4 linked regions of the Homo sapiens genome follow. The protein of the gene in region 1 purifies or fractionates together with the protein of each later gene. This does not show direct contact. Each region holds a gene or a part of one and is shown in the gene's direction. Other genes may lie near its edges.

What was found.
Region 2: the proteins of MASTL (region 1) and FASTKD5 purify together in Homo sapiens (affinity purification with mass spectrometry; one large-scale study listed by BioGRID and IntAct). This does not show direct contact.
Region 3: the proteins of MASTL (region 1) and TAP2 purify together in Homo sapiens (affinity purification with mass spectrometry; one large-scale study listed by BioGRID and IntAct). This does not show direct contact.
Region 4: the proteins of MASTL (region 1) and DERL2 purify together in Homo sapiens (affinity purification with mass spectrometry; one large-scale study listed by BioGRID and IntAct). This does not show direct contact.

The regions. Positions count from the first base shown.
Region 1 is NC_000010.11:27,158,304-27,161,927, forward strand, and holds part of MASTL (serine/threonine-protein kinase greatwall), read left to right. Parts: intron 1-245; coding exon 246-383; intron 384-1,315; coding exon 1,316-1,455; intron 1,456-1,715; exon of another isoform or gene 1,716-1,835; intron 1,836-2,790; coding exon 2,791-2,879; intron 2,880-3,624. UniProt on the Homo sapiens protein: Serine/threonine kinase that plays a key role in M phase by acting as a regulator of mitosis entry and maintenance.
Region 2 is NC_000020.11:3,153,366-3,156,989, reverse strand, and holds part of FASTKD5 (FAST kinase domain-containing protein 5, mitochondrial), read left to right. Parts: intron 1-3,624. UniProt on the Homo sapiens protein: Plays an important role in the processing of non-canonical mitochondrial mRNA precursors.
Region 3 is NC_000006.12:32,832,240-32,835,863, reverse strand, and holds part of TAP2 (antigen peptide transporter 2), read left to right. Parts: intron 1-90; coding exon 91-221; intron 222-504; coding exon 505-710; intron 711-3,039; coding exon 3,040-3,237; intron 3,238-3,402; coding exon 3,403-3,531; intron 3,532-3,624. UniProt on the Homo sapiens protein: ABC transporter associated with antigen processing. In complex with TAP1 mediates unidirectional translocation of peptide antigens from cytosol to endoplasmic reticulum (ER) for loading onto MHC class I (MHCI) molecules.
Region 4 is NC_000017.11:5,476,179-5,479,802, reverse strand, and holds part of DERL2 (derlin-2), read left to right. Parts: intron 1-1,803; coding exon of another isoform or gene 1,804-1,846; exon of another isoform or gene 1,847-1,954; intron 1,955-3,624.

The DNA.
Region 1 (3,624 bases):
TTGGGCCAGCCTGGGCAACGTAGTGAGACCTTGTCTCTACAACAAAATTAAAAAGTAGCCAGATGTAGTCATGTGTGCCAGTAGTCCCAGCTACTTGGGAGGCTGAGGTGGGAGGATAACTTGAGCCTAGGAAATCAAGGCTGCAATAAGCTTTGATCATGCCACTGCACTCAGCCTGGGCAAGAGAATGAGACTCTGTCTCAAAATAAAATAACATGATATCACTTTTATTTTATCTATTACAGGTTGTTAAAAAAGCAGACATGATCAACAAAAATATGACTCATCAGGTCCAAGCTGAGAGAGATGCACTGGCACTAAGCAAAAGCCCATTCATTGTCCATTTGTATTATTCACTGCAGTCTGCAAACAATGTCTACTTGGTGAGTAAATAATTTTTATGTTGTTTCTTTATCCATTAAGCAGTCATTGAACCTAGTGATTTAAGAGAACCATGTTTTGGTTCAGAGTGCTTGCATTTGAATTCTGGCTGCACTCACTGCCTTGGCAAATTTACCTGTTATATTAGTTAGAGTTCTCCAAAGAAAAAGAACCAATAAGATATATGCATACGGTGCGTGTGTATGTGTATGTATATGTACATAGAGAGACAGGCCAAGGGGCCATGGCTCACACCTGTAATTCAAGCACTTCGAGAGGCTGAGACAGAAAGATCACTTGAGGCCAAGAGTTCAAGACCAACTTGGGGAACATAAGGAGACTCCATCTCTACAAAAAAATTAAAGTAAAAATTAGCTGGGCATGGTGGTATGCAGCTAGCTAATAGAGATACCATTGCACATAATTGCACCCCAGCCTGAGATAGAGTCTCCCTCTGTTGCCCAGGCTAGACTGCAGTGGTGCAATCTTGGCCACTCTGCACCTCCTGGGTTCAAGCAATTCTTGTGCCTCAACCTCCCAAGTAGCTGAGATTACAGGCCCAGCTAATTTTTTGTATAAATTAGCTGCCACCAGGCCCAGCTAATTTTTTGTAATTTTAGTAGGGACGGGGTTTTGCTATGTTGGCCAGGCTAGTCTCGAACTCCTGGCCTCAAGTGATCTGCCCATCTTGGCCTCCCAAAGTGCTGAGATTATAGGCGTGAGTCACTGTGCCCAGCCTAAACAGTTTAATTTTTAATTAAAAACTGTTATGGCAACATGAATAAACCTAGTATTAATGTATTACGAGTAATAGCAAGAAAAGGTCGTTTCATTACAGAGCCATGCCAAATATTGTAACTGTAATGCCCAAATACTAGATTTTTAAAGTAATCATATTGTTTTTATTTCACAATATTAAATTCTTTTTTGAAAGGTAATGGAATATCTTATTGGGGGAGATGTCAAGTCTCTCCTACATATATATGGTTATTTTGATGAAGAGATGGCTGTGAAATATATTTCTGAAGTAGCACTGGCTCTAGACTACCTTCACAGACATGGAATCATCCACAGGTAAAGACTGACTTCTCCAAATTATTACTTAAAAATTCAAGTAATCAAATTACATATTTGAGTCTCAGATATTCACAGTAACCACTTGCACTTATTTCCAGGTTATCTAAAGTTTACTAGTAACTTGTATTCATTTAGAAATTAACTCTTCTTTCATCTCCCTGTGTTTTTTAAAATATATTGCTTTGAACATGAGTATAGCATGTATTTATTTATTTTTGTATTTACATATTTATTTATTTTTTTCTTTGTTGAGACAGGGTCTCACTTTGTCATCCAGGTTGTGCAGTGCAGTGACTTGACCTTGGCTCACTGCAGCCTCGACCTCTGGGGCTCAAGCAATCCCCCTGCCTTAGCCTCCCAAGTGTCTGGGAGTAGAGGTGTGTGCCATTACTCTTGGCTTTTTTTTTTTTTTTTTTTTTTTTTTTTTGTAGAGACAAGGTTCCCAGGCTGCTCTTTAACTCCTGGGCCCAAGGGATCCTCCCACCTCAGCCTCCCAAAATGCTACGATTACAGGCATGAGCTACCACGGCCCATTAAGTATGGCATTTTATGTGAAGAGTATTGAATCCTTTCCGCTCCTCTGCATTATACAAAAGTGGTATATTTTGTAGTCCAACTGATTTACAATGTTTTTCTCTATGCAAAGAAAGTCAGATTAAGTGACTTATTAAATCTCAATCTTACCTTCCTTTAAGAAGGTAAATGTAGGCCAGGTGTGGTGGCTCATACCTATAATTCCAGCACTTTGGGAGGCTGAGGCGGGCGGATCACCTGAGGTCGGGAGTTTGAGACCAGAGTGGACAACATGGTGAAACCCTGTCTCTGCTAAAAATACAAAAATTAGCCGAGTGTGGTGGTGGGTGCCTGTAATCCCAGCTACTCGGGAGGCTGAGACAGGAGAACTGCTTGAACCCGGAAGGCGGAGGTTGCAGTGAGCCGAGATTGTGCCATTGCACTCCAGCCTGGGTGACAAGAGTGAAACTCCATCTCAAAAAAAAAAAGAAAAGAAAAAAAAGAAAGTAAATGTAAATTTGAACTGGCTTGAGGTTGATTTTATCTAATAAGGTTTCTTTATTTTAATGGAATATCTAACCAATGATACCAAAGATAATCTAGTATTAATTTATCTTTTTTGTAGATTCTGATAAACAGTACGAAAGATGTTTTGCTTTTGAGAGATGTTTTCTGTACTTTTCAAAGCCATCAATGAGTATCTTTATTTTGGAGGAAATAAATAGGGTTTGCCTCCTTTGTAACTCTTTTTTTCTGGAAATTCTAACATTAAAACTAGCCCTTTTTTGGTTATCTAATATTTGCCTTTTGTGTGTGCAGGGACTTGAAACCGGACAATATGCTTATTTCTAATGAGGGTCATATTAAACTGACGGATTTTGGCCTTTCAAAAGTTACTTTGAATAGAGGTAAGAAAAATATCAAGTAAGTACTTTTTTAAAACATCCAACAGGCCAGGCGTGGTGGCTCACACCTGTAATCCCAGCACTTTGGGAGGCCAAGGCGGGCAGATCACCTGAGGTCAGGAGTTAGAGACCAGCCTAGCTAACGTGGCAAAACCCCATCTCTACTAAAAATACAAAAATTAGCTGGGCGTGGTGGCATGCGCCTGTAATCCCAGCTACTAAGGAGGCTGAGGCAGGGAGAATCACTTGAACCCAGGAGATGGAGGTTGCAGTGAGCTGAGATCCCGCCATTGCACTCCAGACTGGGAAACAAAGTGAAAATCTCTCTCAAAAAAAAAAAAGTCCAACTAAAAATAAATATAAAAAATTAAAAAAAATGAAAAGTCTAACAAATTATAGAGACTACATTTCATTAACTTCCACTGTTTTCTTTGTTAGTTTACACTAAATAAAATTTGTTATTTATCCCAGAATAGGCTAGAAAGGTATAACGGGTTCTTTTTTCCACTGAAGATGAAAAATAGGAGTGATTATTCTTGGCTATTCAGAGGTCCTTGAAGGTCCTTTGATCTTCACAGAGGAACTCACAATTTCTGTTTTTCTGACTTTTATCCCAAGTGAAATTGATTCTTACCAATTAAGCATCAGTAAAATGACCAGAATAACTATAACATGATGAAGGGTTAATAACTGAAAACATATTCAAATATACACGGCCACCACTAAGACCTTGATCAACAAAAGGACA
Region 2 (3,624 bases), on another chromosome or scaffold:
TGTCTAGCCAGTTTTTTTGCCTTTTTAATTCTTAAGGTTGCTCAACAAATTATTTGCTGAGACAAGAATAGGGTTGGAGTGTTCATTTATTTGTGGCAATTTTATTGGGACATAGAAAGGAAAAGTGTTAGAATTGAGGGATCAGATCTGGTAAGTGGTAAATTGTATGTGTTTAAGGTGTCTTATACTCAGTCTACAGTTAGCATCGCTCCTTCCTCTGCCTGGCCCCCCTCCTCTAACTTCTAGACTCTAGTTTAAAATGAAGCTATTCGGCTCTGCTCAGACCGGTATGTGGAAGGGAGAAAGGTAAGATTCTTCAGTCCTGTGAAATCACATCATTCAGGGAGGTTTGGGCATTGCCTTTTGGAACTGACAGGGTCCAGGAGTGTCTGAGGCTCTACTCTGTTTCGTTAGGACCCCTAAAGGGGAGAAAGGTATACTTGGGGCACTTAAACTAGGAAAGGAGTTTTGTGAAATCATATCAGGTATCTTTGACCTTTATTGAAAGAGTCAGGCCGGGCGTGGTGGCTCCTGCCTGTACTCAGTACTTTGGGAGGCCAAGGCAGGTGGATCACTTGAGGCCAGGAGTTTGAGACCAGCCTGACCAACATGGCAAAACCCCGTCTCTACCAAAAAATACAAAAAAATTAGGTGGGCATGTTGGCGTGAGCCTTTAGTCTCAGCTACTTGGGAGGCTGAGGCAGGAGAATTACTTAAACCCGGGATGCAGAGGTTGCAGTGAGCTGAGATCACGCCACTGCACTCCAGCCTGGGCAACAGAGCAAGACTCTGTCTCAAAAAAAAAAAAAAAAAAAAGAGTCAGAAGTTAATTGACTGAGCATCTCATAGTGTTCTCTTTCCAGCTTTCCTATGGATTTTCTGAGAGTCTTTGAGTAAGGAGGAACTAACCTTCTCAGGTATGTTTTCGCTATCTGGTCATCCTGACTGCTGCTTCTTTGCAGTGTCTTTTCTCCCTACTGTTCTTCTCTGCTGCTTCTGTATCTTCCTTGTTTTTCTTTCCTTCTCCACAGTACTCAAGACCAACTTCTGAAGTCCTCTGTTTCAGACCTGTGTATGTAGATACAGTTTCTATAGAGTTACTGTAAATGTTGCATAGTGAAAAGAGTAAGTAGCCACTGTTTACCATTTGTAGGTTGGCTCTTCATGCCTCTAAGATTCCTTATTTTGTTATCATTTCTGTTATTGAACATCTTTAAAGAAGTTCTTAGGTAGTAGAAAGTGCTTGCACTAAAAATAACTTTTCAACATTTTCCTTATCTATTAAGCTACTTTCTCCATTCATTATCTTGAACAATACCATAATATCTTCATAATACATGGATTTTTTAATTTAATTTTTGTCAAAATTGTACATGTACATGGTTTAAACAGTCAAATAGTTCAGTAGAGCTTGTAACACTAAATAATAGTTTCCTCTCCCGACCCACTTTTTTTTTTTGAGATGGAGTTTCGCTCTGTTGCCCAGACTGGAGTGCAGTGGTGCGACCTCGCCTCACCACAACCTCTGCCTCGCGGGTTCAAGTGATTCTCCTGCCTCGGCCTTCTGAGTAGCTGAGATTACAGGTGCCTGCCACCATGCCTGGCTAATTTTTTGTATTTTTAGGAGAGACGTGGTTTCGCCACGTTGGCCAGGCTGGTCTCAAACTCCTGACCTCAGGTGATCCTCCTGCCTCAGCCTTCCAAAGTGCTGGGATTACAGACTTGAGCCGCTGTGCCCAGCCTACTTTTTGTATTTTTAGTAGAGACAGGGTTTCACCATGTTACCCAGGCTGGTCTAGAACTCCTGGCCTAAAGCAATCCGCCCACCTCAGCTTCCCAAAGTGCTGGGATTACAGGTGTGAGCCACTCACTGATCCTGGCCATCACTATATTTATTTTTTCTTTTCTTTTCTTTTCTTTTTTTTTTTTTTTTTTTTGAGACTGTGTCTTGCTCTGTCGCCCAGGCTGGAGTGCAGTGGCACGATCTTGGTTCACTGCAACCTCTGCCTCCTGGGTTCAAGTGATCCTCCTGCCTCAGCCTCCCAAAATATTGGGATTACAGTTGTGAGCCACCACACCTGTCCAATTGTACTTCTTTATTATGGACTTTGAGGCTCTAGGTCTCTTGTATCATCAACCTCCCCCTACTCCTCCTCTTACTCACTTTATCCTCCCAATATAGTTTGCTCATAATTTTTGGTTAGGCTAATATCAAGATTTATATTAATAAAATTATGTTAGTATTATTCTCAACTGAATAGGGAGTATGATATACTAATATTTTCTTTACTCTTTTTATTTATTTATTTATTTTTTGAGATAGGGTCTCTCTCTGTCACCCTGCCATAGCAGGATCACAGCTCACTGCAGCCTTAACTTTTTGGGCTCAAGCAACCTTCCCACTTCTACCTCCTGAGTAGCTAGGACCACAGGTGTGTGCCACCAGGCTTGGCTAATTTCTAAATATTTTGTAGAGGTGGGGGTCTCACTACATTGCCCAGGCTGGTCTCAAACTCCCGGCCTCAAGTGATCTTCTCACTTTGGCCTCCCAGAGTACTATGATTACAGGAATGGGCCATTGCATCCTGCCTGTGGTAACATATTCTATCTTGTATAACTTTTTTGTCTTCCCTGGCATTAATAATTTTTGTTACTGTTTTTATTAGCATGGCTTTTTGTATCCTTATCTCTTGTTCATGCCCGGATTATCCGGTAGAAGTATGATTCTCCTCTCCTGGGTACTGTCTATGTCGTCCAGCATGAGCTGGTTGCTCTTTATGTCTGTTCACAGCTCTTGTCCTGGGATCTTCCTTCACCTTTTTCCTGGGATTTCCCTTTGCTTCTCTGTATTGAACCCTAGTTTCTGGATCCCATATCTCTACTGCCAACTTTCAGGTCTTCAATTGTGGTAGCTCTCCTTACTTTGATCCTGGAGCATCCTGCGAACTCTTTGCCTCATGTAGATTTCAGCCTTTGAGGTCTTCTCTTTGTTCTTTTTTAAAGTACAGGTTGAGCATTCCAAACCTGAAACTCCAAAATGCAAAATGCTCCAAAATCTGAAACTTTTTGAGCACCAACATGATACTCAAAGGAAAAAAAAATGATTGGAGTATTTCAGATTTTGGATTTTTGAATTTGGAATGCTCACTGGTCAGTATAAAGCACATAGTCCAAAAACTGAAAAAGTTTAAAATCTGAAACACTTCTGGTCTCAAGCATTTTGGACAAGGGATACTCAACTTGCAGTATAAACCGTAGTGATAGAATCGTAGACTGTTAGAGGTGGAAGGGACTTTCAAGCTTACCTAGTTCTAACCCTCCAGCTCCCTGGCACCTGGAAATCCTAGAAGACCATAGATTGTTCAGCCATCCCACCCCGTACTGCCCCCCGAACCTGTTTTCTGACATCCATTCTTGTCTCTCTAGTACACCAATAATGTGGGCTGAAGAGTCAGACAGTCTTTAATATTAGGCTCCACTCAATCCCTTGGCTGTGTAACTTTTGGCAGGTTTCTTAATCTTGTGGTCTCTTTCTCATCAGTAATATGGGGATTATAAACTTACATTACAGAGATGTTATAAGGATGGGAACTAATGCAGATAAAGCAGCTTTACAAGGCTCTA
Region 3 (3,624 bases), on another chromosome or scaffold:
TTCTCTGCACTCCTGGCTTGCTCCTCTGTTTCACCCGCTGGCTTGCTCCTTCTCTGCATCTCCCTCCCCTCTTATTCTCCTACCCCACAGCTCACTGTCTGCAGGCTGCCGAGGAGGCTGCTTCACCTACACCATGTCTCGAATCAACTTGCGGATCCGGGAGCAGCTTTTCTCCTCCCTGCTGCGCCAGGACCTCGGTTTCTTCCAGGAGACTAAGACAGGTGGGGCCTGGAGTCCAGGTCTGAGATTCCCATGGACATCCCTTGCCCCTCAGTGACCTTCCACCCACAGCCTCTCCTCCTGCCTTCACCCGTATGCCAGGACTTGGGGATGCTTTTCTCTTGTTTGGGACAGGGTGGAGAAGCAGCCTCCACTGTCCCTCTGCAAGTGAAGGAGGATGTTCAGAGGAGGGGGCTGTGTCAGAGGGAACGGTCAGGAGGGAGTTTCTGGGGGCCCTGCAGTACACATGGTTTCCTTTTTCCTCACCTGCTCTGTCCTTCTTAGGGGAGCTGAACTCACGGCTGAGCTCGGATACCACCCTGATGAGTAACTGGCTTCCTTTAAATGCCAATGTGCTCTTGCGAAGCCTGGTGAAAGTGGTGGGGCTGTATGGCTTCATGCTCAGCATATCGCCTCGACTCACCCTCCTTTCTCTGCTGCACATGCCCTTCACAATAGCAGCGGAGAAGGTGTACAACACCCGCCATCAGGTGAGCGTGCATGTAAGGGAACCCCAAAGGGAGAATAAAACTGACAGGTGAGGAGGCTTCCACATTTGTGGCTAGAGGATCCCCTAGAGAGAGATGTTCTCTTCTCAGCCATTAGGGGAGAAGGTATATTGTAGTATATACTACATTTTGTTTGTCCAGCCATCCAACAATGGATATTTGACTTCAGAAGATTCATGATTCTCCAGAACTGTAAACAAAAATGTAAAGTGTATGTGAAGGTATGGGGGAGGGAATAGGAAGGGGAGATGATAGGCGATGATAACTTTTCATTAGCTTCTCAAAGGAGTCTGTACATCCCCCGCCCCCACTGCGAAGATTAAAAATGGTTTCTTAGAGGCTTTTAGGCAGGGAGATTTTCCCTTTAAAATCAGCAGAAGAAGTCTGGATGCAGCATAGGGAAAGGAGGCGTCATCAGGAAGTCCTAAGTCTGAATGTCAGCTCCACCTTCTCTTTTTCTCTTATATTGTGGTAAAACATACATAACATAAAATTTACCATTTCAACCATTTGAAGTGTACAGTTCAGTGACATTTAGGAAACCCACATTGTTATTGGGTAACCATCATCACCATCCATCTCCAGAACTTTTTTCATCTTCCTAAAATGAAACTCTGTACCCACTAAATAGTAACTGCCTACTACCCCCAACCCCTGGCCGCTGGCAACCTCCATTGTACCTTCTGTCTCCATGAATTGTGATGACTCCCGGTGCGGTACGTAAGTGGAACCATACAGTATTTGTCTTTTTGTGACTGGCATATTTTACTTAGCGTAATGTCTTCAGGCCTCATCCATATTGTAGCATGTGTTAGAATTTCCTCCCTTTTAAGGCTGAATAATATTCTGTTGTGTGCATATATCACATTTTGATTATCCATTCATCTGTCAATGGACATTTGCGTTGTTTCCACCTTTTGGCTGTTGTGAATTATGCTGCTGTGGACATGAGTGTACACCTGTTTGAAACCCTGCTTTTGGTTCTTTTGGGTATATACTTAGAAGTGGAGCTGCTGGATCATATGGCAATTCTATTTAACAATTTTTGAGGAACCATGTATTAGTCCATTTTTACGCTGCTGATAAAGACATACCCAAGATTGGGCAATTTACAAAAGAAAGAGGTTTATTGGACTTACAGTTCCATGTGGCTGGGAAGACCTCAAATCATGGCGGAAGGTGAAAGACACATTTCACATGGCAGCAGACAAGAGAAAAGACAGCTTGTGCAGGGGAATTCCCCTTTTTAAAACCATTATATCTCGTGAGACTTATTCAATATCACAAGAACAGCATGGGAAAGACTTGCCCTCATGATTCAATTACCTCCTACCCAGTCCCTCCCACAACACATGGGAATTCAAGATCAGATATGGGTAGGGACACAGCCAGATCGTATCAAACCACCATACAGTTTTCCATAGCGGCAGCACCATTTTAAATTCCCACCAGCAGTGCATAAGGTTTCCAATTTCTCCACATCCTCATCAACACCACTTTCTGTTGTCTTTTTTTTTAATAGCCATTCTAATGGTGATTAGGTGATTAGGATTATCTCATTGTGGTTTTGATTTGCATTTCCCTAATGATTAGTAAATATTGAGCATCTTTTCGTGTGATTTTGGCCACTTATGTTTCTTTCTTGAAAGAATGTCTGCAAGTTCTTTGCCCATTTTCTGATTTTTTTTTAAGTTGTGGGAGTTCACTATATGTTTTGCCTATTAATTTCCTATCAGATATATGATTCACAAATATTTTCTTGTATTTCATGGTTGCTTTTTCACTCTGTTGCTAGAGTTCTTTGATGCACAAACGTTTTAAATTCTGATGAAGTCTGATTTATCTATTTTTTGTTGCCTGTGCGTTTGGTGTTATATCCAAGAAATCACTGCCAAATCTAGTGGCATGAGGCTTTTCTTCTACATTTTCCTAGGAGTTTTATAGTGTTAGCTCTTATGTTTAGGCCTCTGATCCATTTGGAATTACATCTCCACCTTTCTTAACTATCTGTGGCTCCTTGGGAAAACTACCCTTCTTTCCTGATTCAGACACTGGGGATGGGAAAATTACCTCAAATGAAGGTTAAAAAAATTGCATGTATCTCCTATACTACCTAACACTGAGAGCTCAATAATATTTTGTTCCCTTGCTCCTTCACTCTTATTCCTTCTGGAAAGAAGAGTAAGGAAGAGGGAGAGAAACAGTTTGGTATTTTTAGGTAGACTAGGGAGCATCTCACTGGCTGGAGTAAGATGTGGGGGCCTGCTGTCTTTGCACATCAGCCCTGGTGTTTGCTGGCCCTCTTTTCCAGGAAGTGCTTCGGGAGATCCAGGATGCAGTGGCCAGGGCGGGGCAGGTGGTGCGGGAAGCCGTTGGAGGGCTGCAGACCGTTCGCAGTTTTGGGGCCGAGGAGCATGAAGTCTGTCGCTATAAAGAGGCCCTTGAACAATGTCGGCAGCTGTATTGGCGGAGAGACCTGGAACGCGCCTTGTACCTGCTCGTAAGGAGGGTAAGATACCAGAGTGGTTGTGAAAGGAGCCCAGGAAAGGGGGAGGGCAAGGGAAGAGGAAACTACAGCTGGTTCTAGAGGCCTTTGCAGCTCAGTCTCATAGAGGCAGAGAGGGGGAAAGAATGGGAAGATTCCCAGCCTCATCTCTTTCTTCTCCTCTTCCAGGTGCTGCACTTGGGGGTGCAGATGCTGATGCTGAGCTGTGGGCTGCAGCAGATGCAGGATGGGGAGCTCACCCAGGGCAGCCTGCTTTCCTTTATGATCTACCAGGAGAGCGTGGGGAGCTATGTGCAGGTGAGCGAGAAGCCAAGCCTGCTCTCCTTTTTTCCCTCTCTTTTTCTTTGTGGACTCCTGGGCCTTGGGCTTTATTTGTTCTTTTTAACAATA
Region 4 (3,624 bases), on another chromosome or scaffold:
CACTAGAACTTCTATTCTGGTAGGAGCCTGCTGGTTTTATGAAAGCTGCTGTCCACGTTTAGTGAAGTAAGGTAGCAAAATGGGCAAAACTGATGAAAGTTTCTGATGGTGGACTTTGTGGCCTGCCAAGCAGGTGGTTGAGATAAGCAGTGAAGCAGAGTGGAAATAGCTTTGGACTGGAAACCAGGTGTAGCTGTCCCACTGACCAGCCATAGAGCAAGTCCTTTCTTTTTTGCACTTCAGTTTCCTGAGATAGAACTTTGATTTCTTTCTTTCTTTTTTTTTTTTTTTTTTTTTTTTTTTTTTACATGGAGTCTCACTCTGTTACCTAGGCTGGAGTGCAGTAGAACTTTGATTTATGAGACCTCTTTCTACTCTGGAATTTGGTATCCTTGGGAGATGCCATATTAAAAAGGGCTCAATTGAGAAGTAAAATGTGAGTTTTTGTTATAAAATGTTTGTTGTAGAATAGTAAGCAAAAAAGAAGAAAGTGAAATTGTCCACTATCCCGACACTTGGGTATAGCAGTGGCCACCATTGTTAACTTTTCAATGTGTATTCTTCAGTCTTTGTGTACTTTTTAAAAAACGCTGAGCCAGGCAAGGCTGCATACACTATGATTGCGCCTGTGAACAGCCACTGCTCTTCTTGGGCTAGGCCTTTAACATAGCCACTGCATTCCAGCCTGGACAACATAACACATTCCTGTAATCCCAGCACTTTGAGAGGTGAAGGCAGACGGATCACTTGAACTCAGGAGTTTGACACCAGCCTGGGCAACATGGCAAAACCCCATCTCTACAAAAAATCCCAAAATCAGCTGCATATGGTGGCATGTACTTGTAATCCCAGCTACTCGAGAGGTTGAGGTGGAAGGATTGCTTGAGCCCAGAGGGTTGAGACTGCAGTGAGCCGAGATCGCACCACTGCACTTCGGGCTGGGGGACAGAGTGGCACCCTGTCTCAAAAAACAATTTTTGTAACCTTGTAAACTTAGTATGCCATAATTGTTTTTTCCACCCTGAAGTGTTATAAAATTATAACAGGTGATATTCCATGGTATGGATATGGTGTAATTATACTAATCCCTTGTTGATGGACATTGACGTTAGTGCTTGGTTTTCTCTTCTGTAATTGGAGTGGTGAATGTCCTTGTAGCTAAATCTCTGCACACATCCATGATTATTTTCAAAAGATAATTCCTAGAAGTAGAATTCCTATTTTGTTGCCAAACGCCTTCCAGAATGGATGTTCAGGTTTACATTTCAACTAGCATTTATAACTGTTCATTTCCCCACATCCTAATCAAACAAGGAAGGCATTTTATTTACCCTTTCCTAGTTGAATAGTTGTAGGATGATGTCTCATTGTTTATGATTTTTAAAAAATGTTTTGAAACAATTTCAGTCCTACAAGAAATTACATATGCAGTACAGGTCTCACTCCATTGCCCAGGCTGGAGTGCAGTGGTATGATCATAGCACACTGTTAACTCAAGCCCCTGGGCTCAAGTGATCCTCCCACCTCAGCCTCCTGAGTAGCTGGGACTACAGGTGCACACCACCAAGCTCTGCTTATTTTCTTTCTTAAATGTTTTTTTTTGTGGAGACAAGGTCTCTCTATGTTGCCCAGGCTAGTCTCGAACTCCAGTCCTCAGGTGATCCTCTTGTCTCTTGGCCTCCCAAAGCACTGAGATTACAGGTGTGAGCCACTACACCCCACTTTTTATTTTTTTATTTTTTTGCAATTGTTTTCTGGCACAACAAGATATACCAGGCTCATCCTGTGCTCTCCTTGATCCAGTCCTAGAATCAGCTGTTTCTTCAAGGAGCCCTGGTTCCTTTAAAGTGGAGAATGGTATTTAGAAGCCAAGATCTGGGTGCTAGATGTGCTCATTGCTATTGGAGTGTTGCTATTCCCAGATCCTCTCAGTGAACAGAGCAATGGAATTATATGTATGTATGTATGATAATGTATACATGTGTATATTTTTAGATCTATGTATTTTTTAAAACATGGGTTTATACTATACTCCCATTTCTAGTACTACCTCATGGTTCATTCTAGCTTTTTTCCTATTGGTTTCCTCCAATATTTTATTATGAAAATTAACAAACTTATAGGAAATCAGAAAAAAATTGGAGTGAGCTTCATGTAGCCACCACATAGATTCTGTAATTAATAGTTCCCTATTCTTATTGCACACCTATCCCTACATCTAGCTTTCCAATCCAAAATGTATGTGCCATTATATGTATACTTAATTCCTTGTATACTTGAGTGTGCATATCAGTAACTAGAGTTTAGTATTTATGTGCAACAAAATACACAAATCTTGAGTGTGTCAACTGAGTTTTTATAAATGCACACATCTGTGTATCTATCAAGACAGAAAATTACCATCAACCAGAAAGTTCCCTGATGTCCTTCCCTGTCAATCATTGTACCTGTCCCCCAAGAAGCAATTGCTATTCTGGTTTTGTTCCTCTGTAGATTAGTTTTTCATGTTCTACAACTTCATGAGTAGAATTGTACAGTATGCATGTACTCTTTGGTATAAGGCTTCTTTCATTCAACATAATGTTTTTGAGACTCATCTGTGTTCTTGTATTTATTGGTAATTTGTTCCTTTTTATTGCTGAATATTATTTGGTTGTATGAATGTACCACTCCTTTCCATCTGCCCTTTCCATCTGTCCTAACCTGATTCTTATTATGATTAATGTTTTACCTACCTAATTACCCCTCATATGTAACCAGTCTTTCGGGATAGTCTCCACCTCTCCCATATGGATGCCTTGCTTATCTCACTCACCCTCAGATTCCCCAGACCAGGCTGCCCTCTTACAGGGATGCCTCCCCATCCTACTCGGGCTAACATCTCGTCAGGCCACCTCCATGTGTGCATGGTCTGATGGGGCTCTTGACTCCCTATACCAGGCTGTGCCCCCACCCCCATCCTGCTAATGTTTGGGCAGTAGAAGGGATCTCAGTTTTGTTTTTGTTGTCGTTGCTGTTTTTTGAAACGGATTCTTGCTCTGTCACCCAGGCTTGAGTGCAGTGGCTCAATCTCGGCTCACTGCAACCTCCGCCTCCTGGGTTCAAGCGATTCTCCTGCGTCAGCCTCCCTAGTAGCTGGGATCATAGGCATGCGCCACCACACCCGGCTAATTTTGTATTTTTAGTAGAGATAGGGTTTTGCCATGTTGGTCAGGCTGGTCTTGAACTCCTGACCTCAGGTGATCCACCCTCCTCGGCCTCCCAAAGTGCTGGGATTACAGGCATGAGCCACCACACCTGCCGGGATCTCAGTTTCTAATATACTTTCCTTTGATTATTGTGAGAGCAAACATTCTCACGTTTATTGACCACATGGATTTCCTTTTTGAATTGCATATTCAGCCCTTTGCCCATTTTTTCTGTTGGTATGTTTGTTTTTATTGTTAATTTGTAAGAATTTTAAAAACTCATTTTGAATTATACTATTTTCTGACTCCAGTATAAATCAGAAGTTTTCAGATACATTTCTAATTTTATCAACTGTGGAGGATTACAAGTAGAAATATAAGTGCAAATTGAGGATGCTGCTTTAATGGTTCCTTCTTTAGTGAGGTTTTGAATTAC